3 separate regions of the Homo sapiens genome follow, and regions 1 and 2 are each linked to region 3. Evidence: fine-mapped expression QTL. A gene starts in region 3. Each other region holds a variant in brackets. All regions are shown on one strand. Distances are from middle to middle.

Evidence for each region. PIP is the estimated chance that this variant, and not a neighbour inherited with it, causes the effect.
Region 1: its variant is fine-mapped to the expression of MS4A8 in ovary (GTEx, PIP above 0.99).
Region 2: its variant is fine-mapped to the expression of MS4A8 in pancreas (GTEx, PIP 0.99).

What each region holds. Positions count from the first base shown.
Region 1 is chr11:60,755,863-60,764,051 of GRCh38, reverse strand. MS4A15 (membrane spanning 4-domains A15) reads right to left here and starts at 7,185. Exons shown (of 7, transcript NM_001098835.2): 1 at 6,994-7,185; 2 at 94-346. The coding sequence starts at 318. RefSeq lists enhancers at 710-799, 830-889. The variant A/G (reference allele first, on the strand shown) is at 4,231.
Region 2 is chr11:60,659,337-60,667,525 of GRCh38, reverse strand. It overlaps LINC00301 (long intergenic non-protein coding RNA 301), which reads right to left. Exons shown (of 7, transcript NR_026946.1): 6 at 6,751-6,804. All of the region lies in intron 4 of LOC105369321 (a long non-coding RNA gene), which reads left to right. Among named protein-coding and RNA genes, the nearest start is that of MS4A8, 36 kb to the left of the region's middle. The variant C/T (reference allele first, on the strand shown) is at 3,149.
Region 3 is chr11:60,696,150-60,704,338 of GRCh38, reverse strand. MS4A8 (membrane spanning 4-domains A8) reads right to left here and starts at 4,727. Exons shown (of 7, transcript NM_031457.2): 1 at 4,564-4,727; 2 at 3,260-3,479; 3 at 839-961. The coding sequence starts at 3,478. LOC105369321 (a long non-coding RNA gene) reads left to right here and starts at 410. Exons shown (of 6, transcript XR_001748240.2): 1 at 410-600; 2 at 1,285-1,344. RefSeq lists enhancers at 2,682-3,181, 3,182-3,683.

The DNA.
Region 1 (8,189 bases), 60 kb before region 3:
AACTGCCTTCTCCCCTCTCCAAAACATGCATGAATGTTCCGGTGCTGGGATACTCACTACCTGCCTCAGGTTGTGCAGAGAGGCTGTTCTTACCCCCAAAACTTTGGGCTCTCCTGTCAGGAATGTCTCCACGGGCCGCAAGTCAGGTGGCTGTGTGGCCCTTGGTGTCTGTGCCCCCAGCGGTGGCTCCTCAAACTGCATAATCCCTGGAGGTTGGCACATGGATGTGGGCAGAATGGCCGGAGGTGGGCAGAGGCCACTGGCGTTGTTTGGCGGGATGACAACAAACACTCCATTGCTGGCGGGAGCTGCAGACATCGTGCTCAGAGAGCCTGGGAAACAAAGGCTTGGGAGATAATAATGGCAATGATGATTGTCACCCATGTGCATAAAGCTTTTTAGTTGATAAGCAACGTGCCTACTTCCCTTGCTTACTGCAGCCCTGCCAGTATGGCCCCAAACGCTCTCATCAAAGCTGGGGAAGCTGAGACTCAGAGAAGCGAAAGATGTCTGAGGTCAAGGGCCTGTAGGTGGGGTAAGACTGAGATTTGAATTCTAGTCTCTCTGGTTTCAGAGGCCTTGCTCTTAATCTCTGAGCTATATTATGTGGAAAGCTCCTTTTGGAGGAGTGTTTATTTAAATGCCCTTCTTTTCCCAGAAAGGGCAAGTGACTTACCTAAGGACACACAGCTAGTGCAAGGTAGAGCTTAGCTAGAGTACCGGTTTCTTCACCCCGAGACCAGGACTCACTGCCACTTCCTGCCTCTCAGCTCTCAACTATTGAGCTAGCGTCAATAATTCCCCTGGGTATGGGAACTTCCCACCTGCTGTGGGAAGCTTTCTATTTGGCCACCCAAGCAATTACCATTGATGTAGCCAAGAAATGTGTAGATATGGAAACTTTATGCAGAGTTTATAGCTTGCAGTGAATGCCAAGAATGAGTTCTTAGACAATTCCAGCTGAGTGGGCCTCGAGCGGGGGTGGCGGGGAGCTCTTCTGAGAGAGTCCACCCCAGCATCTGTCCGCCAAGTATTTATTGAAAGAGCTTGTTAAACCACAAACATCCACTAGATGGCTTTTTGAGGGTCATGAGACACCTATGACCTTATAAAAGCTCTCAAACCACCTTCTTAGGAGGCTGTTTTCAGCGTTCCTTATTACACACCTCAATCCTTGTCCTGTTTTTAGGGTCAAGGAGTTACATTCTCATGCATAAATAACATACACAGAGTGCCTCAGTATTTTTCCATGCCCCAACCTCAAATGCCATGTACATAAGCTTGGATATGTTGCCGTGCACCCTCAACATCTCCCCCTTCTTTAATTTTTAGAGTATGTTGGTTATTTAAAGCGAGGTAAGCTTTTATTGCTTTTTCTTGGTTATAGATGCACTGAGTGACAGCACAGAGCCATTTGTACATACCTAGCAAACAAATACAAAAAAGAATAAGTATATTGGCCATTACCCAAATGTGTATGTTTAACCCAGATAACTAAGTGTTTGGGTTTAACTATTGAAAGCCTTTTTATAATTGTTGAAGGGTATTTGTTTATAATTGCTGTGACCATTTTTTAAGTTGTTTTTTAAATTTACACTTAAGAGTGGGAATTTGAGAAGACTAATGATTGTGATAAGCCCCTTGCAGGTGTGTTTTCACTCTCTCCCAAGCATATTGGGAGCTATTATATGGCAGAGGTGTGACATAGATAGAATTATATTGCCAATTACAATATAAATGTTGATGGGTAATGAATGCCAGCTGCTGATCCCCCAGCCATTCAACTGCAGCTTTAAGAGCCTCCAGGTGAGACAGAGTAGTTTGATTAATATTTACCTGTTTTTGAAATTTATGGGTTACATTATATACCATGTGGTTCACCACTGAAGCTGTGTGAATAGATTTTGTTAGAAAAAGCAGCTGCAGTAGCAGCAGTTGCTAATATAATAATAGCTGAGACTAAAAAAGCAATTAAAGTGGCCAGAAATCTTTTTTTCTGAGTATGAGACAGTGCTTTTCTAAACAGCTGCAGGGTTGAATCTCCTTCCCAGCTCCAGGCTAAATTTACAGGCAGCCAAAATTCTGCACGCCATTTTAAGATCATGACATAGGTTATATTTAACTATGTAACATTTCGATGAGACAGGCATGTAGCATACTAACTACTGGAAGAGACTTTACTACTATAAAAGGATTGATTCTGCTCTATATTAGGAACACTTTGCCCAAACAAAAGTATATAAGAGTGCGTAGTACAAATCACAACTATGTCAGTAACATTATTATGGAAACAGAGGGTATAATTGCCACTGCTAGTAATATACTCATCATGTGAAAGAACCCATTCAAAAAAAGGAAGTTCTAATCTCCAAATTTGGGTATGAGCAGGGCTTAAAGCTTGTTTCCCTTTTAGTTGTAATATTGGTCCTGAAAGCCTGTACTCTGACCAGGTGATAGACTTACTGGGGACTCCCAGATCCAATAGTCTGATTTGCAGACATAAGATAACCATGGGGACTCCAATCAAGTAAGGTGCCATTATCAAACAGAGGCCCTTGACATGGCGCAGGCTGTCTGGATGGAGACCACTGAATGGCCTCAAACTTATATCCCCAGTCCCTACTCAGACGGCATATAGGAAGATCAGGCACTTGTGTAGCTTCATTAGAGACCTCAGTAAGATTAGTGGTAATAGCAGAAATAAAGGTCAAGTTTGCAAGCTTAGCATCCCTTTTACACTGATAGTAAAGATACTCCTGAAGAATAAGAGTAACACACTTAGCATGTGCTATTGTGGAAAAACAAAGAGGGGGATTACTAGACAATACAACCAAGGAGTTATTAAGTTTAATCCATCCCAAATTTTCCACTGAAGGGTAAGACAGGGGCATCCATCGACCTCTCGTCCAAGAAGTATCATTAGATGACAAAGGCAGGTCAGCATCCCACCATGAAATAACATTAAAAACAGGGGGATTTAGAACATGACTCCAGTAAACATGTTCTTGAGGTGATCCCACTTGGCAAAGGACAAGAATTACCAGCCACCCCAACATCTATGTCGTCTTACTTTCTCAGAAGTTTTCCCAATTACCCCCAGATACATAAGAAACTGATTCTCTGCAGTTACAGAGGCTTCTATGCCTGCAAGCCGGATAGTTGCCTGTTGATCCAATTTCTTTAGCTGTCCCCAGGTAATGTCAGGTGCCTTCTGAGTCATCACCGTCATTGTCAGTCGATTCTCCAATGACAGGTCCTGTTCTCGAGAAGAGGGCCCGATATTCCCCCTTTTTTGTTTATTAAGATATACTTTACGAGTTTGATGAGCTTGTTTAATAATGGCCTGACTGGTTGAGTTACAGAGAATCCCAGTCTTGGGTTGTATGTTGATCTTATTGCCAAAGTTGCAATGCATAGCCAAAGTGAGCACTAAGATAGCAGGGGCCATTATCAGTTTTACAGTTTGTGGAAGGCCTGGAGTCATAATAGATTCAAACAAATGAGCAACTGCATCTTTAGTTTTTTCTCCGGCATGGGGATAGCATGTATTAGGTCTATATAAGTGTCCACAGTAACATGGAGAGATTTAAAACGTCCAAAGGGTGGATACTGAGTAACATCAGTTTGCCAGATAGCATTAGGCACCAGACCTCGTGGGTTGGCACCAAGTCCTAAGGAAAAAGGGGAAAGAGAATGCCATTGGCAATCAGGATAAGTTTTAATAATCATGTGAGCTTGAGCAAGTGTTAAATGAAACTGTTGTTTAAGACTGCAGGCGTTCTGATGGAAAAAAAGCATGATCAGCTTGAATTCGCAAAAAAGCAGGAGAGTCTGCAAACCACATCTGTGTGTGTACCAGAGCATTAGCTCGAGCGTTCCCTTCTGATAAGGGACCAGGTAGCCCAGAATGAGAGTGAATATGTGTGATGTAAAGAGGGTGATGATCGAAGGGGGCTTGCCCCTCCACACCTGTGGGTATTTCTCGTCAGGTGGAGACAAGAGACTGAGAAAAGAAATAAGACACAAAGTACAGAGAAAGAACGGTGGGCCCAGGGGTCCGGCACACTCAGCATGCGAGGAACTGCACCGGCGCCGGTCTCCGAGTTCCCTCAGGGTTTATTGATTACTATTTTCACTATCTTGGCATGGGGGGTGCGGCAGAAGAACAGGGTGAACAGGGTGATGGTGGGGAGAAGGTCAGCAGGAAAACATGTGAGTAAGGGAATCTGC[A/G]TCATAAATAAGTTCAAGGGAAGGTACTGTGCCCAGATGTGCACGTAGGCTAGATTTATGTTTCTCTTTACCCAAACATCTCAGTTAGTAAAGAGTAACAGAGCAGTATTGCTGCCAGCATATCTCGCCTCCAGCCACAGGGCAGTTTTCTCCTATCTCAGAATAGAACGAATAGTCGGCTTTACACCGAGACATTCCATTCCCAGGGACATGTGGGAAACAGAGGACTTCCTCTTATCTCAACCACAAAGAGGCCTTCCTCTTTTACTAATCCTCCTCAGCACAGACCCTTTACGGGTGTCGGGCTAGGGGATGGTAAGGTCTTTCCAATCCCACGAGGCCATATCTCGGGCTGTCTCAGTCGGGGGAAACCTTGGACAACACCCAGGCTTTCTTGGGCAGAGGTCCCTGCGGCTTTCCGCAGTGCATCGTGTCCCTGGTTAATAGAGAATGGAGAATGGCGATGACTTTTACCAAGCATACTGTCTGCAAACATATAGTTAACAAGGCACATCCTGCATACCCCTAAATCCCTTAAACCTTGATTCAGTACAGCACATGTTTCTGTGAGCACAGGGTTGGGGCTAAAGTTACAGGTTAACAGCGTCTCAAAGCATAACAATTTTTCTTTGTACAGATCAAAATGGAGTTTCTTTTGTCTTCCTTTTCTACATAGGCACAGTAACAGTCTGATCTCTCTTTCTTTTCCCCACAATGATGGTCACAGAGGAGCTCTTACGCTGCAAGAAACAAAGCTAGTAGGGGTTCATTAGTAATGCCCTTCACATGTGCAAGATCTAAATGAGTAATACTACACACCGCATAAGCGGAATCACTAACTATGTTTATGTCTTGGTGAGGAAAAGTTTGTAAGGCCAATATCAGGGCACCTAACTCTGCCTGTTGCGTGGTTTTAAAATGTTCCTGGATTTTGTGCTGCCATTTTTGCATGGCCTATTGCCACACTGTAGCTGCTCTTCCAGTTTTTCCTAAACCATCTGTAAAGACAGTAGTGGCATGAAGCAAGGGCTCAGAAACAACAATAGATACAAATTTAACAGGCACAGTTTGTAAAAAGTTCAGGAGCTTAGAGGCTGGTAAATGAAAGCTGATATTACCAATAAAGTCAGCTATTGCGATTTGCCAATCAAGAGCACAAGCTAGAAGAGTATGAAATTGTTTTTTGCTTAAAGGTAGGAAAACAGTAGCAGGGTTATTTTTGCCATATGCCTGGTTAGGTCACAATTACAATATGTGGTTCCGGTCATTATTGCAGCAAAAGTTTGAGTCAGATGAGTTGTAGTGCCTATATTTTGGCATGCTTTAATAAACACACTGATTTCAGTGGCAGTGGCTTAGACTGGAGTTATTGCTGTCTGACAATCCTTATTTGCTTTTTCAAAAGCCAATTGTAACATAAGAAGTTTGGTAGCCTTAGGATGGGATACCTGTTTTTCAATTGCAGCTTGCAGTCGGTTGATAAATTTAATGTATGTTTCTGTGGCACCTTGTTTAACTGTTATAAAGGAACCCTGGGATTGTCTTACGGGATTTTTTTTTTTTATGTTTGTATTGCTAGCTGTGAGCATTGAGGAAATAGATGGCCACCTGCTTGACCCTGAGTCTGAGCTGAAGCAAAAGGCCCTGTTCCCAATAGCATATCAAGTTGTATCGGGATATTATTATCCAAATTTTGCAAGGACTGCTGCATGGCTAAATCACTGTACTCACTCCACCACACAGTATATTCTGCAGCTGAAACCAAAACATTTACCAAAGTTTTCCAATCATGTGGAGTCATCTTATAGCCATTTCCCAGAGCCTCAATCACCTCCTTCGTAAACGGTGAATGTACACTGTTTTCACGGATACTTTTCTTTAACTCTTTAAAGACAGTAAAAGGCAAACTCTCATGCCATCTCCTGTTGCTTTGAACAATAACAGGGAATGCGCCAAAAAGCGCCTCAGAGTCTCCCTTCCTAAGTCCCTCTTGGAGGCACCCCTCTACTAAGAAAGTTTGACGAGGAGTTGGCGTTGAGGACACGGCCACCCGATCATATAGATATTCACTGACTGGAGGTCTTATCCAAGAACCATCTCTTGGGCGGCCTCCAGACTCCTCAAGGGGGATGGGAGGCGCCATTGCCTGAACGGGGCCAACGAATACAGGTCCCTTTAAGGGTGGAGGAAAAGAGGGCAATGGCTTTTCTATAGGGGGAGGAAAAGGCTCCGGTCCGTCCTCATGATCACTAGAAAAAAATATCCTCCTTATGCCCTACAGAAGGGAATGAAGTAGAGAGAGGACCCCCCGCCCGCCTCCCGCTGTCCTGGTTGGCTCCTGTTCTTCCTTCTCCTTTAAACCTCCTGAATTCCCTTCAGGCAAAGACGGGCGGTCTGACCCACTGCAATCTGGCAGATAAAGAGGATACAACACCGAGTGTACCGGCGCCCAGGTGGTCAAAACAATAACCTCAGTAAAATGACCTTGCTCACATCCTGTTTTCAGGCAGTGACCTACCTGCTCCATAACTCAAGTCTAAGGTTCCTTGATCAGGAAACCAAGGGCATTCCTGCCGAATTAAGATCATAGCGTTGTGTAGAGCTCCAGGCTCTGCAGTGCACTGGTTAGCCTTAAGTAGCTGTCGCACTGTTTTTAAAAAACACTTTCTGTTCTTTGGTCATTTCTTGACCCATGATAATCCAACCCCTGATATTTTACGCGTGGGTCCCATCCTCCTGACGGGAGTCAGGACTGTCCCTTACCGGGATTCCCCGAAAATTGATGAGTTTTCCTCCTTCAAGCGTAACTTCAAGGCGATCACGTCGGGGTCACCACTTGCAGAGCTTATAGCTTGCAGTGAACGCCAAGAATGAGTTCTTAGACAATTTCAGCTGAAGGGGGCTGGGAGAGGGGGTGGGGGCAGCTCTTCTGAGAGCCCGCCCTTGTGAGAGCCTGCCCTAGCATCTGTCCGCCAAGTATTTATTGAAAGGGATTGTTAAACCACAAACATCCACTAGATGGCTTTTTGAGGTGGGGTCATGAGACACCTGCGGCCTTGCAAAAGCTCTCAAACCACATTCTTAGGAGGCTGTTTTCAGCGTTCCTTATGACACACTTCACTCCTTGTCCTGTTTTTAGGGCCAAGGAGTTACATTCTTATGCACAAATAACATACACACAGTGCCTCCGTATTTTTCCATGCCCTGACCTCAAATGCCACGTACATAAGCTTGGATATGTTGCCATGTACCCCAACACTTTAGGTGTGGCTGGCCTGGGCAAACACTTTGGGAAAAAACACCCATTACCCAGGTGTCAGGAGATGAGCTTACCAGGAAACAACAGAGTGCTGAATCTGCCAGATTATACAATGAGATCGAAAACAGTCATCCTTCTTGTTGGCATGGGTGTGTGAGGAGTTTACCAGTTCAGTGTAAGGGTCTGAGATAGAAGCCAGGGTTTGAATTCTGGCTCCTCTTGTTACTGTGAGGCACGGGAGCGAGAGGGTCACCCTCTGCCTCAGTTTCCTTACCTGTGAAATAGGGATAATACCAATCTCATAGAGTTTGGTGGGAAACACACACCAACTTGATAAAATCCATCCCTTACAACGTGACTTGTTATAACACGATGCGGCTGAGATGTTTTGTTAAATATAACATATCTAAGCCAGTGACTTACAATGGACCGTGGATGTGCATTGCTTCCCAGTGCTCTGAGACCTACTATGCATGCTCGGGAGAGCACCAGCTTGCAGATTGTGCAGCAGATTCTCTGTGGTTCTGCAAGCGCTCTTGGCTGATAAGGGCTCAGCCTCACTGTTCTGTGCTCAAAATATGTGTGTCTTCAGGAAGCCTCTGTGCCATTTATTTTGTGATAGGTCTGACCTATATTGGTGAACAAAGGGGGCAAGGGACAGCGTTGGACCCTATGCAGAGAAATAGAGCGAAAAGGACAC
Region 2 (8,189 bases), 37 kb after region 3:
GTTTTCTTATCACTTGTGTGTTAACTCAAGCAGCACTTTTAATTTCCTTCAAGAATTTTTCCTTTACATTCACACCTATGTTAATGGTTGGGTGCAAGAGGATTAACTTTGGCCTATCTCACCTTTCTATATGCCTTCCTCATAAGCTTAATCATTTATAACTTTTGACTTAAGAGAGAGATGTGTGGCTCTTCTTTTCACTTAAAATTTAGAGGCCATTGTATGGTTATTAATTGGCCTAATTTCAATGTTGTTGTATCTCAGAAAATAGAGAAGCCCAAGGAGATGGAGAGAGACAGGGGTAAGGATGGTTGGTAGAGCAGTCAGAACACACATATTTATCAATTAAATTTGTTATCTTATATAGACACAGTTTATGGTATGCCAAAACAATAACAATGTTAATATCAAAGGTCACCGATCACAGATCACTATGACAAATATAATAATCATAAAGGTCACTGATCACAGATCACTATGACAAATATAATTAATTGGCCTAATTTCAATGTTGTTGTATATTAGAAAATAGAGAAGCCCAAGGAGATGGAGAGAGACAAGGGTAAGTGTGGTTGGTAGAGCAGTCAGAACGCACATATTTATCAATTAAATTTGTTGTCTTATATAGACACAGTTTATGGTATGCCAAAACAATAACAATGTTAATATCGAAGGTCACCAATCACAGATCACTATGACAAATATAATAATCATAAAGGTCACTGATCACAGATCACTATGACAAATATAATAATCATAAAAAAGTTTGAAATATTGTGAGAATTACTAAAAGGTGACACGGAGACATGAAGTGAGCACGTGATGTTGAAGAAACAGCTTTGCTTGATGCAGTGTTATTATAAACCTTCACTTTGTAAAAAACCTCATTATCTGTGAGGTGCAATATAGCAAAGCACAATAAAACGAGGTATGCTTGTACACTGTAAGCAAGTGTGATTTATTCCACAAATGCAAGGCTGGTTTTATCTTATACAATTAATGTCATATGCCATATCAGTAAAATAGAAAAACACACATATGATCATCTCAATTGATGTAGACAAAGCATTTGGTGAAAATTCTTCACTGTTTTATGATAAAAACACTCAAAATACTCAAAATAGATGGGATCTTTCTCAACCTGATAAGGAGCATCTAATAAAAATCCACACCTAACACACCTATTGGTGAAAGACTCAATGCTTTCATGAGGAATAAGACGGTGAGATATACTCTCATTATATCTATTCAACCTTGTATTAGAAATTCTAACCAGGGCAGTTCGGCAGTAAAGAAAACCCAAAAGGCATTCAGAGGGTCCAGTTTTATTATTCTGTGTATGGATGGCCAATGATCCCAGCACCATTATTGAATAGGGACTCCTTACCCCATTGCTTATTTTTGTTGACTTTGTTGAATACCAGTTGGTTGTGGGTGTGCAGATTTATTTCTGAATAAACTATAGAAATAAAACAATATCTATTCACGTTCTTTAAAAAAAATTCAACTTTCATTTTAGATTCAGGGGGCATATGTACAGTTTTGTTATTTGGGTGTATTTTATAATGCTGAGGTTTGGGGTATGATTGATCCCATCACCCAGTTAGTACCCAAGAGGTAGTTTTTAAAACTTTCTTCCCTCCTGCCTTCCCCCAGTAGCATTCATCAATGTCTATTTTCTTATCTTTATGTGCATATGTACCCAACGTTTTGCTCCCACTTATTATAACCCCACTGGCATTTGGTTTTCTGTTTCTGCATTAATTCACCTAGGACAATGGCCTCCAGCTGCATCCATATTGCTGCAAAGGACATGATTTCACTCTTTTTTATGGCTGTGTAGTATTCCATGGTATGCATATATATATATATATATATATATATATATATATATATATATATATATGTATATATATATATATATCACATTTTCTTTACCCAATTCACCATTGATGGGCACCTGGATTTATCCCATGTCTTTGCTATTGTGAATAGTGCTGTGATGAACATGTAAATGCATGTCTTTTTGGTAAAATGATTTATTTTCCTTTGGGTGTATATGCAGTAATGGGATTGCTGGGTCAAGTGGTAGTTTTATTTTTAGTTCTTTAGAAATTTCCAGATGCTTTCCATAGGGACTGAGCTAATTTACTTTTCCACCAGCAGTGTATAAGTGTTCCTTTTGTCCGCATTCTCACCAATATCTATTTTTTGACTTTTTAGTAATAGCCATTCTGACTGGTATGAGATGTTATCTCATTTGGTTTTGGTTTACATTTTCCTGACAATTAGTGATATTAAGCATTTTTCATGTTTGTTGGCTGCTTGTATGTCTTCTTTTTAAGAAGTGACTGTTCATGTCATTTGCCCACTTTTTAATTTGGTTATTTGTTTTTTGCTTGTTGAATTGTTTAAGTTACTTATAGATTCTGAGTATTTGTCCTTTGTAGGACGTATAGTTTGCAAATATTTTCTCCCATTCTGCAGGTTGTCTGTTTAGTTTAATAGTTTCTTTTTTTTGCTGTGCAGAAAGTCTTTAGTTTAATTAGGTCCCATTTGTCAATTTTTGTTTTTGTTGCAATTGCTTTTGAGGGTTCGGTTTTATTATTCTGTATATGGATGGCCACTTATCCCAGCACCATTACTGAATGGGGAATCCTTACCCAATTGCTTATTTTTGTTGACTTTGTTGAATATAAGTTGGTTTTGGGTGTGCAGATGTATTTCCAAATTCTCTATTTGGTTCCACTGATCTATGTGCCTGTTTTTGCACCAGTACCAGCATGGTACTGGTTAGTTACTATACCCTTGTAGTATACTTTGAAGTCAGGTAATGTGGATGCTTCTGGCTTTATTCCTTTTGATTAAGATTGCTTTTGCTATTTGGGTTCTTTTTTGATTCCATATGAATTTTAGAAATACTTTTTCTAATTGTGCTAAAAATGATAATTGGTGGTTTGATAGAAATAGCATTGAATCTGTAGCTTGCTTTGCGCAGTATGGCCATTTTAATGATTTTGATTCTTCTAATCCATGAGTATAAAATGTTTTTCCATTTGTTTGTGTCATATATGATTTCTTTAAGCAATATTTTGTATTAACTAGTTTTCCTTGTAGAGATCTTTCACCTCCTTGGTTAGATGTATTT[C/T]TAGGTATTTTATTACTTTTGTGGCTATTGTAAATGCAATTGCATTCTTGATTTGACTCTCAGCTTGAATGTTATGGTGTATAGAAATGTTTAGTCATAAAAAGAATAAAGTACTGATATATGCTACAACATGAGTGAACTTTTACCACAATATATTGAGTGAAATAAGCCAGTTAACAAGAAATTACATATGATGTGATTCATTTTTAATGAAATGTCTGGAGTAGGAAAATATATGGAGACCCTATGTAGATTAGTGGCTGCCTAAGGTTGGGGAGAATGGGAAGTTGGGGATGGGAGTGATAGCCAAGGGGTACAGAGTTGCTTTTTGAGGTGATGAAAATGTTTTTGAATGGACTGTGTTAATAATTGCACATATCAGTGAATATACTAAAAACTATTGAGTTGTATGCTTAAGAAAAGAATCAATTAAGATAATACTTACATAGACAGCTAAAGATTTTCCCAGGTTTACATGAAAATAAATATATATGTTTTCAGAAAAAAGTTCCTGAACTCAAATATCTGCACCCCAAAAGGAAGTCACTTAATGTATATTGTTTGAAAAAACAATTTAAAAATTATGGTACAAAAGACATATATTCTGGTGGGGCACGGTGGCTAATGACTGTAATTCCAGCATTTTGGGAGGCTGAAGTGGGTAGATCACTTGAGGTCAGGAGTTTGAGACCAGCCTGGCCAATATGATGAAACACCGTCTCCACTAAAAATACAAAAATTAGCAGGGCGTGGTGGTGGGAGCCTGTAGTCCCAGCTACTTGGGAGGCTGAGTTGGGAGGATTGCTTGTACCTGGGAGGCAGAGGTTGCAGTGAGCTGAGACTGCACCACTGCACTCCAGCCTGGGTAACAGAGCAAGATTCTGTCTCAAAAAACAAACAAACAAGCAAAAAACAAAAAAAAAAATTCAAACAAAAACATATATTCTACATTTATTTTCTGCTTTAACTTGAAAACATGCACACGAATAAGATATAATATTTTACTCTTTAGAACATGATTAAACCAAGAAACTTTTCAAGTAAAAAAATTATTATTTTCTCCCCTTTTTTCTATTTTTCATGTTGGAGTGCCCTAGGGCTCAGTTCTTGTTTCTCTTTTCGTCTTTGTTGTGTTCTTTCCACTGGAGATCTCAACAAGTCTCCTGGCTTTAAATATCTTCATGTCTAAGATTCTCAACTGAATCCGTCCAAATGTTCAAGACGAAACTATGGCAGCCCTTATTACGTTTTCTTTTTTTCATCACACCTATCACCTTCTAACATATTATATTATTTCCCTGTTTGTCCTGTTTATTGTTATTGCTTTTATCCTGCTATTAGAATGTAAGCTCCCTAAGGGTAATAAATTTTCATCTGTTTGTTCACTGATGCATCCTACATACATAGAACATGCCTGACATGCAGCAAATTATATATATATATATCTACACACACACACACACACACACACACACATATATGTATATGTATAGATTGATTGATTGAGGTGGAGTGGGGAGATGGAAAAAGAAGGGCAGAAGACGGAGTGATGGGGATTAGGGAGAGAGTTACAAAGGGATCTAGGTTGTGACTGGAACTTGGAAATTACAATCATAATCTTCCCCCACCAATCCTCGAGTAAAAAAACCCAAAACTTTTTGTGAGTTTTTGTGAAAATCAGTCAAGGGGCTGAGTTTATTCACAACTGTTTCTTTGGGTGTTGTGGAGAAAATTTGGGACAGTATGCACCAATACAGAAACTAAACTATGAGAATGCTAGTTCTGGGAGTTTACCAAATCACATGGGGGCTTTATGGGCTTTCATGTCATCTGTACTTATATCTCTGTGGATGTAAGGTTTTCCGTGGAAAAGCAACACCAGGTGACTTCTAAGTCACATGTTCACTCTGCTTGCAAACAAATTACAAAAAAAAAAAAAAAAAAAAAGCTTAGAAAAAGGCCTAGAATGAAAAATGATATTAACAGTGGCTACCTTGGGAATAGAAGTTAAAAAAAGTGTAATAGCTTAATGCCCATAATTATAGCTTCCAATCTGGGGCTGAGAAAAATGGCCTCTCATACCACTCTGACCCTATTCTACTGAAAGAAAAAATAGGAGGACCCCTTTATCTGAAATATGAAATACAATTTCAATTTCTTCTCTTACCAGTCCCTGAAAGCAGATTTTCCCCTGGGGAAAGAGGAGAATCCACCTGTTTTTTCTCAGCGGGTTTTGATAAGCAGAGTGGTATCTTTGTGCCAGTTACTGTTCTTTTTTCTTGAGATGGAGACTTGCTCTGTCACTCAGGCTGGAGAGCAGTGGCAGGATCTCAGCTCACGGCAACCTTTGCCTCCCAGGTTCAAGCGATTCTCGTGCCTCAGCCTCCTGAGTAGCTGGGATTACAGACGTGCGCCATCACACCCAGCTAATTTTTGTATTTTTAGTAGAGACGGGGCTTTGCCATGTTGACCAGGCTGGTCTCGAACACGCGACTTCAGCTGATCCACCTGCCTTTGGCTTCCCAAAGGGCTGAGATTATAGGCATGAGCCACCCTGTGTGGCCCCAGGTACTGTTCTTTATGCTTACATACTAATTTAATCCTCACAGCAACCCTTTGAGGCAGTTACTATTATTAACCACATTTTATTTTTTAAATGAGGAGAGTGAGGCACAGAGTAAAGTAATTTGCTCAGGGTTACACAGGCACTAGTAAGGCAGTCAGAATTGGAAAATTCAGGCTATCTGCCTCCAGAGCTGTGATCCTAATCACAAGGGGGGCTGTGAGAGACAGGAGGGAAGTTCTAAAAGAAAAAGGACCATCCTTCGTTAGATGTGTTGTCATGATATCTGGTTTGTGTTCTAATTGATATTTCCTGACCTGGTTTTGCTGAAGGCAATTCTCTTTTCACACATTATTTTGTCTTATCCATTCTCCTTAACTAGACACTAATTTTCTAATCTTATCCTAATTACATTTCTTCGCTTCCCAATGCTTTGATTCTCAGGGTCGAAGTTTTGTTTGGTGGCTAGGTTTAGTGGCTCATGTCTATAATCCCTGCACTTTCGGAGACCAAGGCAGGAGTATGCCTTGAGGCCAGGAGTCCAAAACCAGCCTGGGAAACATAGCAAGACCCTTATCTCTGCAAAAAATGAAAAAACCAGGTGTGGTGGCACACACCTGCAGTCCCAGCTATTTGGGAGGCAGAGGCTGGAGGATCACTTGAGCCCAGGAGCTCCAGGTTGCATTGAGCTGTGATCACCCACTGCACACCAGCCTGGGTGACAGAGTAAGGCCTTGTCTTAAGTTTTATTTGGTTATATATGCTCGTTGAGATAGCTTGAAATGATTTATTTCATGGAAACTCTCACGTCTGTCTCTGTATACAATATTATTGCTCACACTGTATCCTCCTCCAACATTCATGCACAGAGGATGCACTGGAGGATATCTTTACAAAAATTAAATAATTTTTTTTCATTTAAACATTTGGAAAAGTTTTTTTTCCCCAAAAATGTTGGCCCAGCAATAATTTCTTTTTTTGTTTGTTTGCACCAAGTAACATTTTAATCTTTAGAGTTGCTCCGAATATTCTGACATACCTTATATCTCGTAACAGGCTTCTGTATTACACTACTGGATCCTGAGTTGATGAACTGGGGATAGAAATAAGCATTTATAAACACACAATGCCTTATGATAATCCCCTCAATAGCTTCTTTCCCTAGAGCCAGTGGCATTCCTAATATCCAAAGTGGCACTGAATGCATTTCTGAAGAAAGTGATTTTAACATGAAAAACCCCATTCGAAGTCTGTAGTGACCGCTAGTACAATTTCTAAAGCATGGATTCACTATTTCTCTGTTATAGGGATGAAAAATGTTTTAAAGTCTCCGGTCATTAATGAGACCTTTGCATAGGTGATGGGACTTAGGGAGCTCACAATGATTTTATGAGGACAAGTTGTAGGCACTTCACTTGTTTTAATTGTCATTTATTGATCCCTTGAAATGAATTATTAGAAAATATTTCCTAGTGGCTAGTGTGGTGGCTCTCACTTGCAAGAACTACGTTTCTCCCATAATGTTATAAAAAAAATTTCATCAGTGGGAATAGTTTCAGAAAACATTACATCTGAAGATTTATAGGTTGCCTTCCACAAATATCATACCCTAAGTGCTATCATCACCTTCTGGCACTAATTGAAAGGATTGTTGTTTCTGGAATACCAAGAATTAATTTTTTTCCAGTAAATCATATACCTGTCTTCAATCTGCCTGCGGCAATAACAAAAGATGATTCAAACATACTAAGAAGGGGACTGGGGATCCTTCAGCCCAGGAAAATGAAATCCTGTCATGAAGGCAGAATCATCTTAGCTTGTGTTTGTTTGTTTTTACCTCTGACACTTCATTGCTGTGTCACTCTGTGAGAGTCACTTAAGTTCTCCAAGCCTCAGTTTCCCTGTTTGTCAAATGGAGATGAATGATAGCTATCTCATGGGGTTGTCGTGGCAATTAAGGTAAAATGAACTTGGAGTGCCTTTTGGAGATGCCTGATACATAATAGGTATAAAATTGAGTAATTATTATCTATGGCTAAATATCTGTCATATGCTCCTCTTTCATATCTTGGGCTGAGGATTCTTTCTAGATGATTTGCAATAAGTGATTAATTGTATTATTTCAGTTTAAATGATTTGTCTTTATTACATACACTCTTTCCAGAAAGTTCTCGGTGTTTGTAAATGTCTTCCACTTGAGGACTCCCACTATAAGAAAGCCTTAGAGAAAATAATGTCTTTTATCCAGAGCAGAGATCACCAGGCCCTTCTCTGGGTGAAATGACTGTACAGGGATGTCTCAGAGGCCTTTTCACAAAGCAAAAGGGAATGTGTTATACTAAATCTTCTCTCCCTTGAAGCCCTGTTTTTGGTTGAAAAGTACAAAGTTGTGGGTAAGGAGGTAATAAAACTCTCTTCTATGGAGAAATTTAACCTTGGGTAAACTTTCTGCTTCTGTAATTGGGCATGCCCTTGGTG
Region 3 (8,189 bases):
GACCAGCCTGGCCAACGTGGTGAAATCTTGTCACTACTAAAAATACAAAAATTAGCCGGGCGTGGTGGTGCGCGTCTGTAATCCCAGCTACTAGGGAGGCTGAGGCAGGAGAATTGCTTGAATCCGGGAGGGGGAGGTTGCGGTGAGCCGAGATTGCACCACTGCGCTCCAGCTTGGGCGACAGAGTGAGACTCCATCTCAAAAAAAAAAAAAAAAAAAAAAGTAAAAAGAAAATACATCCCTTTTGAGGGGATGTCACCTTGCGGGGTTGTAGCTTGATATTATGGGCTGAATTGTGTCCACACCCTCTATCCCCCACCAAATTTCGTAGATTGAAGCCCTAATCTGTAGTGCTCCAGAATCTGACTGTGTTTGGAGATAGGGTTGTTAAAACCGTCATTCAGGTTAAATGAGGTCATCAGGGGGGACCCTAATCCAAAATGACTGGTGTCCTCATAGGAAGAGGAGACTAGGGCACAGGCATGGAGGAAGGCCGTGGAAAGGCTCAGGGAGAAGACGACCTTCTGCAAGCCAAGGAGAGAGACCTTAGGGGAAAACATCTGCTAACATCTCCATCGCAGACTTTCAGCCGCCAGAACTGTGAGATAACAAATTTCTGTTGTTTAAGCCATCCAACCTGTGGTGCTATACTCTGTTGGGCCGGCCCTACCAAACTAATATGCTTGCGGAACGAGGCCAGGGCTGGCTGGTTTCCTATCCCCCACATTTGGGTGGCTGGGAACCTTCTGCAGGGCACAGCTGCACAACTTGGCAAGGTGGCCTTGAGTGCCTTGGCACCTTCTGGGAGCTCATCGGCAGGAGGACTTGAGTTACTCACCCACAAGCCTCCCCAGAAGGGAAAGCCTCCGTAGAATGAAATAGACAGGTATTCCCCTACGAGAACCGTCGCCATGATGGAGCCGAGGCCGATGTGAGCCAGGCCAATGATGATCTGGATGGCCTGTCAGGAGAGCCACAAGCTGAAGTCTTGTTTCTGAGGCTGGGTCCTGCCTCCCCTATGAGCCTCCTTTTAATTTTAATAAATGTTTTATTTTCATGGTCTAAAAAGTAATATGGGAAATACAAAAATGAAATAAAAACTACCTGTAATCTCCCCTCCGCCTGGAGAAAACAACTGTTTACATTTTGGTGTATTCTCCCATTATTCTTTTCAAATATATACCTTGATAGCACAACATGGCCCCCTGAATTTTATTAACTTAATATTTCATCATGAATGTGTCCTCATGGCATTAAGTATTCTTGGAACATATGTTTTTTCAGGGCTGCTCAGATCCCATTATGGATGGTCTGTGGAGTAGTTGAGACAGAGTTATTGGACAGGTAAGATTATTTCTACTTTTTTCTATTATATGTAACATTGTGATAAACATCCTTCTATGTAAATCTTTGCCTTCATCTCTTATTTCTTTAGGATATTGTTATGTGTTAAATTATGCTCCCCTCCCCCAACCCTCCTCCAAATTCATGTGTTGAAATTCTAATGCTGAGTGCCTCAGAATGTGACTCTATTTGAAAACAGAGTTGTTGCAGATATAATCAGCCAAGATGAGGTCACACTGGAGTAGAGTGGGTCTCCAATCCAATATGATTGGTGTCCTTATAAAAAATGCCATGTGGGCCAGGCACAGTGGCTCACACCTGTAATCTCAGCACTTTGGGAAGCTGAGACGGGCGGATCACAGGTCAGGAGTTCAAGACCAGCCTGGCCAACATGGTGAAACCCTGTCTCTACAAAAATACAAAAACTAGCTCGGCATGATGGTGGGTGCCTGTAATCCCAGCTACTTGGGAGGCTGAGGCGGGAGAATCGCTTAAACCCAGGAGGCAGAGGTTGCAGTGAGCCAAGACTGCGCCACTGCGCTCCAGCCTGGGTGACAGAGTGAGACTCTGTCTCAAAAAAACAAAGTTTTCAACTTTATTATGGTGTGAAAGTGACATGAATTCAGTAGAAACCGTATTTGGAGTACCCATACAATCATTCTGCTTTTCATTTTCAGTCCAGTGTTCAGTAAACTACATTAGATATTCAAGAACACTATTAAATAGGCTTTGTGTTAGATGATTTTGCCCAGCTGTAAGCTAACCTAAGTGTTCTGAACTTGTTTAAGGTAGGCGAGGCTAAGCTATGATGTTTGGTAGGCTACATGTATTAAATGTATTTTTTACTTATGATATTTTTAATTTACGATGGGTACACTGGGACATAATCCCATTGTAAATGAAAGAACATCTGTGTATGTTTGTATATTACACACGTGGTAGCAAATACAAATATATTACTTCCTTAAATTCACATAAATGTAAGCAAATTATACACAGTGTCTGCCCCTTACTTTCTTCCATTAACTCCATATCTTGGGGTGTGTCCCTATCATTACACAAAGAGCTTTCTTGTTCTTTTCATAGCTCCACTACATTTTATTCTTTGGATGCACTGACTTAACCAGTATATTACACTGACTTAACCAATATACTGACTTAACCGGTATTATATTGATGGATATTACAATATTTTTGTTATCACAAACCACGCTGCAATGAATAAGCTCATACATATCACAGTTTTTGTGGGCACAGGCATATCTGGAGGATGAAGTTCCAGCAATGGAATTATTGGATATTTTGTAAATTTGGCAGATACAAATTTCCCTCCCTAAGGGTTGTATCAATTTTTGTTCCCATGAGCACTATCTGAGGGTGGAGCTAGGGTTGGAGCTCGGGCAGTCTGCATCCAAATTCATGCCCATCATTCAGCTACACAGTGAAATGGGCCTTTCTTTGTCCAGCGCAGGACAGCCTCTCAGGGGTTGCGGTGACCATTTATGTTGTTGGTTGCCTAACCTGCTTTGTTTCCTGTTGGGCAAATATTTGATTCGATCTTATTGGATTCTGACTCCACCTTGTGGTCTATTTTGGTCTTGCTGGGACCCCTTTCTTCAGAGGCCACAGGGCTGGGCGTGGATCCTGGCAACAGGATCAACCTTCAAGCGTGCTGCTTTTTTGTTGCTTTTCTTTCTCTTTCCGAAAATGCCTAAATCAGAAAATACAAGGTCTGAGCAGAGGCCGCCTGTGATGTTGTGCAGCTGAGCTTTCTAATAGACCTGTGCTTGGCAAGGCGCGATCAACTCAGCCCCACTTGCGGGATGTAGTGTTTGTGTATTTCCCAGGCCTTCCCTTCCCCCTGCCATCACTCCAGCTGTGCAGTCTGTGGCCTGCAAAGGGAAATCTCACTTACCCCCAAGGTTTTGCCTTCTTTCAGAGCTTTCTGCACAGGCTGCCCATTCACATTCGACACCAAACTAGGTGGGTTCCCAGGAACTAGGTGGACTTGCGGCTGGCTGTTTGGATACAGGGGCACGTGAGACATAATTCCTGGGGTCACAGGATAACCATTGTGGGGTGCCACCACCAACACAGAATTGGCCACCGGAACTGCTGAAGTCATCGAATTCATGCTGCCAAGAAATAAATGCGAGAGAATTTTCCCTCACATATGGACTTGTCCTTTAAAAAGGACTTTTGCTTCTTCTAGCTCATTGGAGCATCTTAACCCTCTACAAGTTTATGAATCCCATGTTACAAATAATAGATATCAGTTATAGGGCACTTAAGAGGTGCTTTACAAATACATTTCCTTTCATCCTCTCACCCGCCCAGTTTTACAGATGAGAAAACTAAGACTCAAAGAGGCTAAAGGCTACCAGAGGGCAAGGGGTCCATCTTTTCCATCTTTGTGTCTCTCATAGTGTTTATTTTTTAATTTTTTTTTGAGACAGAGTCTGGCTCTGTCACCCAGGCTGGAGTGCAGTGGTACGATCTTGGCTCACTGCAACCTCCGCCTCCCAGGTTCAAGCAATTCTCCTGCCTCAGCCTCCTGAGTATCTGGGATTACAGGCCCCCGCCACCACACCCAGCTAATTTTTGTATTTTTAGTAGAGATGGGGTTTCCCCCTGTTGGCCAGGCTGGTCTCGAACTCCTGACCTCAGGCGATCCGCTTGCCTCGGCCTCCCAAAGTGCTGGGATTACAGATGTGAACCACCGCACCCGGCCTCTCATAGTGTTTAGAGTGCTGCTTTGCATATGTTAGTACTGGCTGAAAGCAAAAGTTCAGAACTAGAAAATCTCTTGGACAACATTGAGTTCAATTCTCTCATTTTCTGGAAAAGGAAACAGGGTGAGAGAGTGGACAAGAATCCTCCAAGGTCCCAGGTATGTCAATATTAGTTAAATGGAGATTATCCTTCTCAAGGGAAGCCCCATTGCCAAGGCAGTGTCTGTTCATTGGGTGGCTTCCACTGCTCAATTTTCTAGGCTACTTATACATTCTAATGTGGTTTTAAAAATTCTTTTTCTTTTTGTTTCTCCCATCCCCCTCCATGTCCTATCTTTCTCTTTCTTTCTCTTGGAGCAGACTCAATAAAGCTAGTACAATACACTCTGTCTATCCCTCATCCACACTGGTTCGCCGTAAGTCTCACTTGGTAGAAAAACCTTATCACCAACTCCCAGTTACCAACCACCAGATTAAGCAGACTCACCTTGCTCTGCCAGCAGCCACGTATCTCTTGATCCTATTCCTTTTCTTTGCTGTGGGGACCTTGTTTTTTTTCCTGAGAGAATGAATGTACTGGGGCCAGTTGGGTGGTAGGGTTAGAAGGATCCGAAGTCCTCTATTTCCTGGATGCAGGCCAGGTTACATGCTGCTTAGAGCTCAGTTTCATTCGTATTTATTTCCTGTTTTGGTTAATGAGCCAGTTAAATATGGTTTGATTTGACAAGAGTCTATGGTATAATCTCCATGGAGAAGAAAGGGTTGGGCTGGTTGCTCTGGGAGACACAGAAATGAACTGGGCACCCAGGGTGTGCTGTATTTAGCTGTAACATGAGACAGGATGAAATAAACACCACAGAAGAGAGATAAATGTCCCCACAGGAGAACAGAGGAGAAAATGATTTGTTGGACTTGAAGAGATTAGGGAAGACTTCAAACAGAAGGTGGCATATGAAATCAATAAACTGCAGTCCAGAAAGGGATAGAATCACAGCGAGTGAAATGAGACTTGTAATCAACTTAGATCTATTTTCATCCAAGTCAGAGCCAATAGAAAATCAGAAGCCATCCATGGGAGGGCATTCCACATATCTATGACATACATCGTGTGAATTGCACAGTACAAAAACAGCTGCATGTAATAGTCCATGACAGATTTACCGTTGAAGAAGGTGAACAATGAAGAACAAATGAAGTTGATGGGATGGCTAGAACATTGTAAGATGGTCAAAACAAAAAGAACACCGTTGAGGGTATGGAAAGGGAAAAGTCTTGGGGAAGAGAAGGTAGAGATATGTTGGGAATGGCTCACAGTGAAGGACATTGAATGTAAAAAAGATGAAAAGGTAGCTGGAGTCAGACTTCACTTTTTTGTTGTTGTTTGTATTTTTTAGAGACAGGGTCTTGCTCAGGCTGGAGTGCAGTGATAGTTCACTGCAGCCTCAAACTCCCAGGCTCAAGCAATCCACCTGCCTCAGCCTCCTGAATAGCTGGGACTGCAGGCACGCACTACTGTGGCCAGCTAAATCTTAAAATTTTTTGTAGAGACAGGATTTCACTATGCTGCCCAGGCTGGTCTTCAATTCCTGGCCTCAAATGATTCTCCTGCCTCGGCCTCCCAAAGTGCAGGGATTACAGGAGTGAGCCACCATGCCTAACCCAAATTTTACTTCTTTACCCATTTTTTCTATCAGATTCCTGGACCTTTGTCCCTTAATTTTTAAAGAGTTCTTTACATACTAGGGATTTTAGGTCTTTGTCTTTGGTATATTCTCCAATTTTGACAGTGTCTTTTGATTTTGTTTAGGGTGGTTTTCTGTCAAGAAAAATTTTAAAAATTTTTGTAGTAAAATTTATCAGTCTTATCTTTTATTACCTATGCATTTGAGTCATTGTTTGAAAGCCTTTCCTAACACTAAGATTAAACAGGAATTTAGCTGTGTTTTCTTCTAATACTTGTATTGTTTTACTTTTTACATTTTGATTCTTAATACATGTAAAATGTATTTTTTTGTGAATGCTATGAGATGTGGGTCTAATTTTAAATTTTTCCAAAAGTCTACCTGGCTGCCCCAGGGCAATTTATTAAATAGCTCATCTTCTCTTCAGCGGCATTTGAAATGCCACCTTTGTCACAGCCTAAATTTCTATATGCATTTGGTTCTAATTCTGGTCTTTCTTTTACTTTCTATTGGTCTATTTGTCTATTCATGTGTTATTTCAACAATGTTTTAATTATAGAGGCTTTCCAGTGTACTTCAATGTCCTGTAGGGTTAGTCTCCTGTGTAATTTTTCCTTTTTCATTATATTTTATGGCTATTCTTGCATGTTTGTTTTTCCAAATGAACTTTAGCATTTGTCTAACTCTATAAAGTAACTCAATAGCTTTTTGTAAAGACGAATAACATGAACCAAACTGTATTGACAGAAATAATAAGAGGCATCTGAATGAGGACATATAGGTGGCTAAGCCCTAGTGCACGTGGGACATTCAGGACCAGGTTTAACCAGATATTGTAGAAGATGAAATTTGTCACCTTTTAATTGAGTTTATAGAAGTGGTGCCAACTTTCTAGAAGGGACCGGAGACATACAAGGGAGATTATTATTGTCCAAACCTACTTCAGCAAATGCTGTTGATGCAGCATCTATATCCCCTTGATCCACTCTGGAGGTCTTGAGACAGGGTCTTGCTCAAGCTAGAGTACAGTAACGTGATCATAGCTCACTGCAGCCTCAAACTCTGAGCAAACTCTGCAGCAAATGCTGTATTGATGCTGCATCTTCAGCCAGTCTCCACATCTATGGACAACTCCTTTCTTTTCCGAGGATGCATAGGTATGGGGCAGGCCATAGGTGCTGGGAAGTTAATCCCACAAGAATTTTTCCTATCCAGTGTAACGTGCATATGCTGGATAACTACCCTAGCTTCTCTGTCCCCTAAGAGAAATAATTTTGAAGTGTGTTTCAACTGTCTCTTAGAGAGTCTCCAACAGGATTAAGCACCAGTTCCCTATAACAGAACTCATTCATTAATACATAGTCTATTGACTTTCTTCCTTTTTTTGGTATCACTTTTCCATTTTTTTTCACAGTGAGTCTTGGGTCACTTCCCAAGTAAGCACCCAAATCCTTATGTCAGAGCCTTTTGTATTGCTGTGGTATCAATTGTAATGTCTTCATTTTCAATTCTGATTGTGTTTATTTGAATCTTCTCTCCCTTTTATTAGTCTAGCTAGTGGTTTATCAATTTTATCTTTTCAAGGAACAAACTTTTCATTTCGTTGATCCTTTTTATTCTTTTTTCATTTCTGATTTATTTAGTCCTGCCTTGATCTTTTTTTTTTTCTTCTGCCAATTTCGGGTTTGATTTCTCCTTGTTTCTCTACATCCTTGAGATACAATATTAAGCTGTTAATTTGTCATCTTTCTGCTTTTTTTGATGTAGGCATTTAATGCTATAAATTTCCCTCATAGAACTACTTTCACTGTATCCCACAGGTTTTGGTAAGATGTGTTTTTCTTTTCATTTCATAAAAATTTTAAATTTCTGTCTTAATTTCTTCATTGACCCAGTGATTGTTCAGGAGCATGCTGTTTAGTTTCCATGTATTTGTATACTTTCTGAAATTTCTCTTGGTACTGATTTTTACCTTTATTGCATTGTCATCTGAGAAGATAGTTGACATGATTTCAATTTTTAAAAATTTCTTAAGGCTAGTTTTGTGGCCTAACATGTAGTCTATCTTGGGGAATGGTCCATGTGCTGATAAAAATAATGCATATTCTGGGCCAGGCGCAGTGACTCATGCCTGTAAACCCAGCATTTTGGGAGGCCGAGGAGGGTGGATCATCTGAGGTCAGTAGTTCAAGACCAGCCTGACCAACATGCTGAAACCCCGTCTCTACTAAAAACACAAAAAAGTAGCCGGGCATGGTGGTGCATGCCTGTAGTCCCAGCTACTTGGGAGGCTGAGGCAGGAGAATCACTTGAACCCAGGAAGTGGAGGTTGCAGTGAGCCAAGATTGCACCACTGCACAAATACCTGTTAAATCCATTTGGTCTAAAGTCCAATTTAAGGCCAATGTTTCTTTGTTAATTTTTTCTCCCT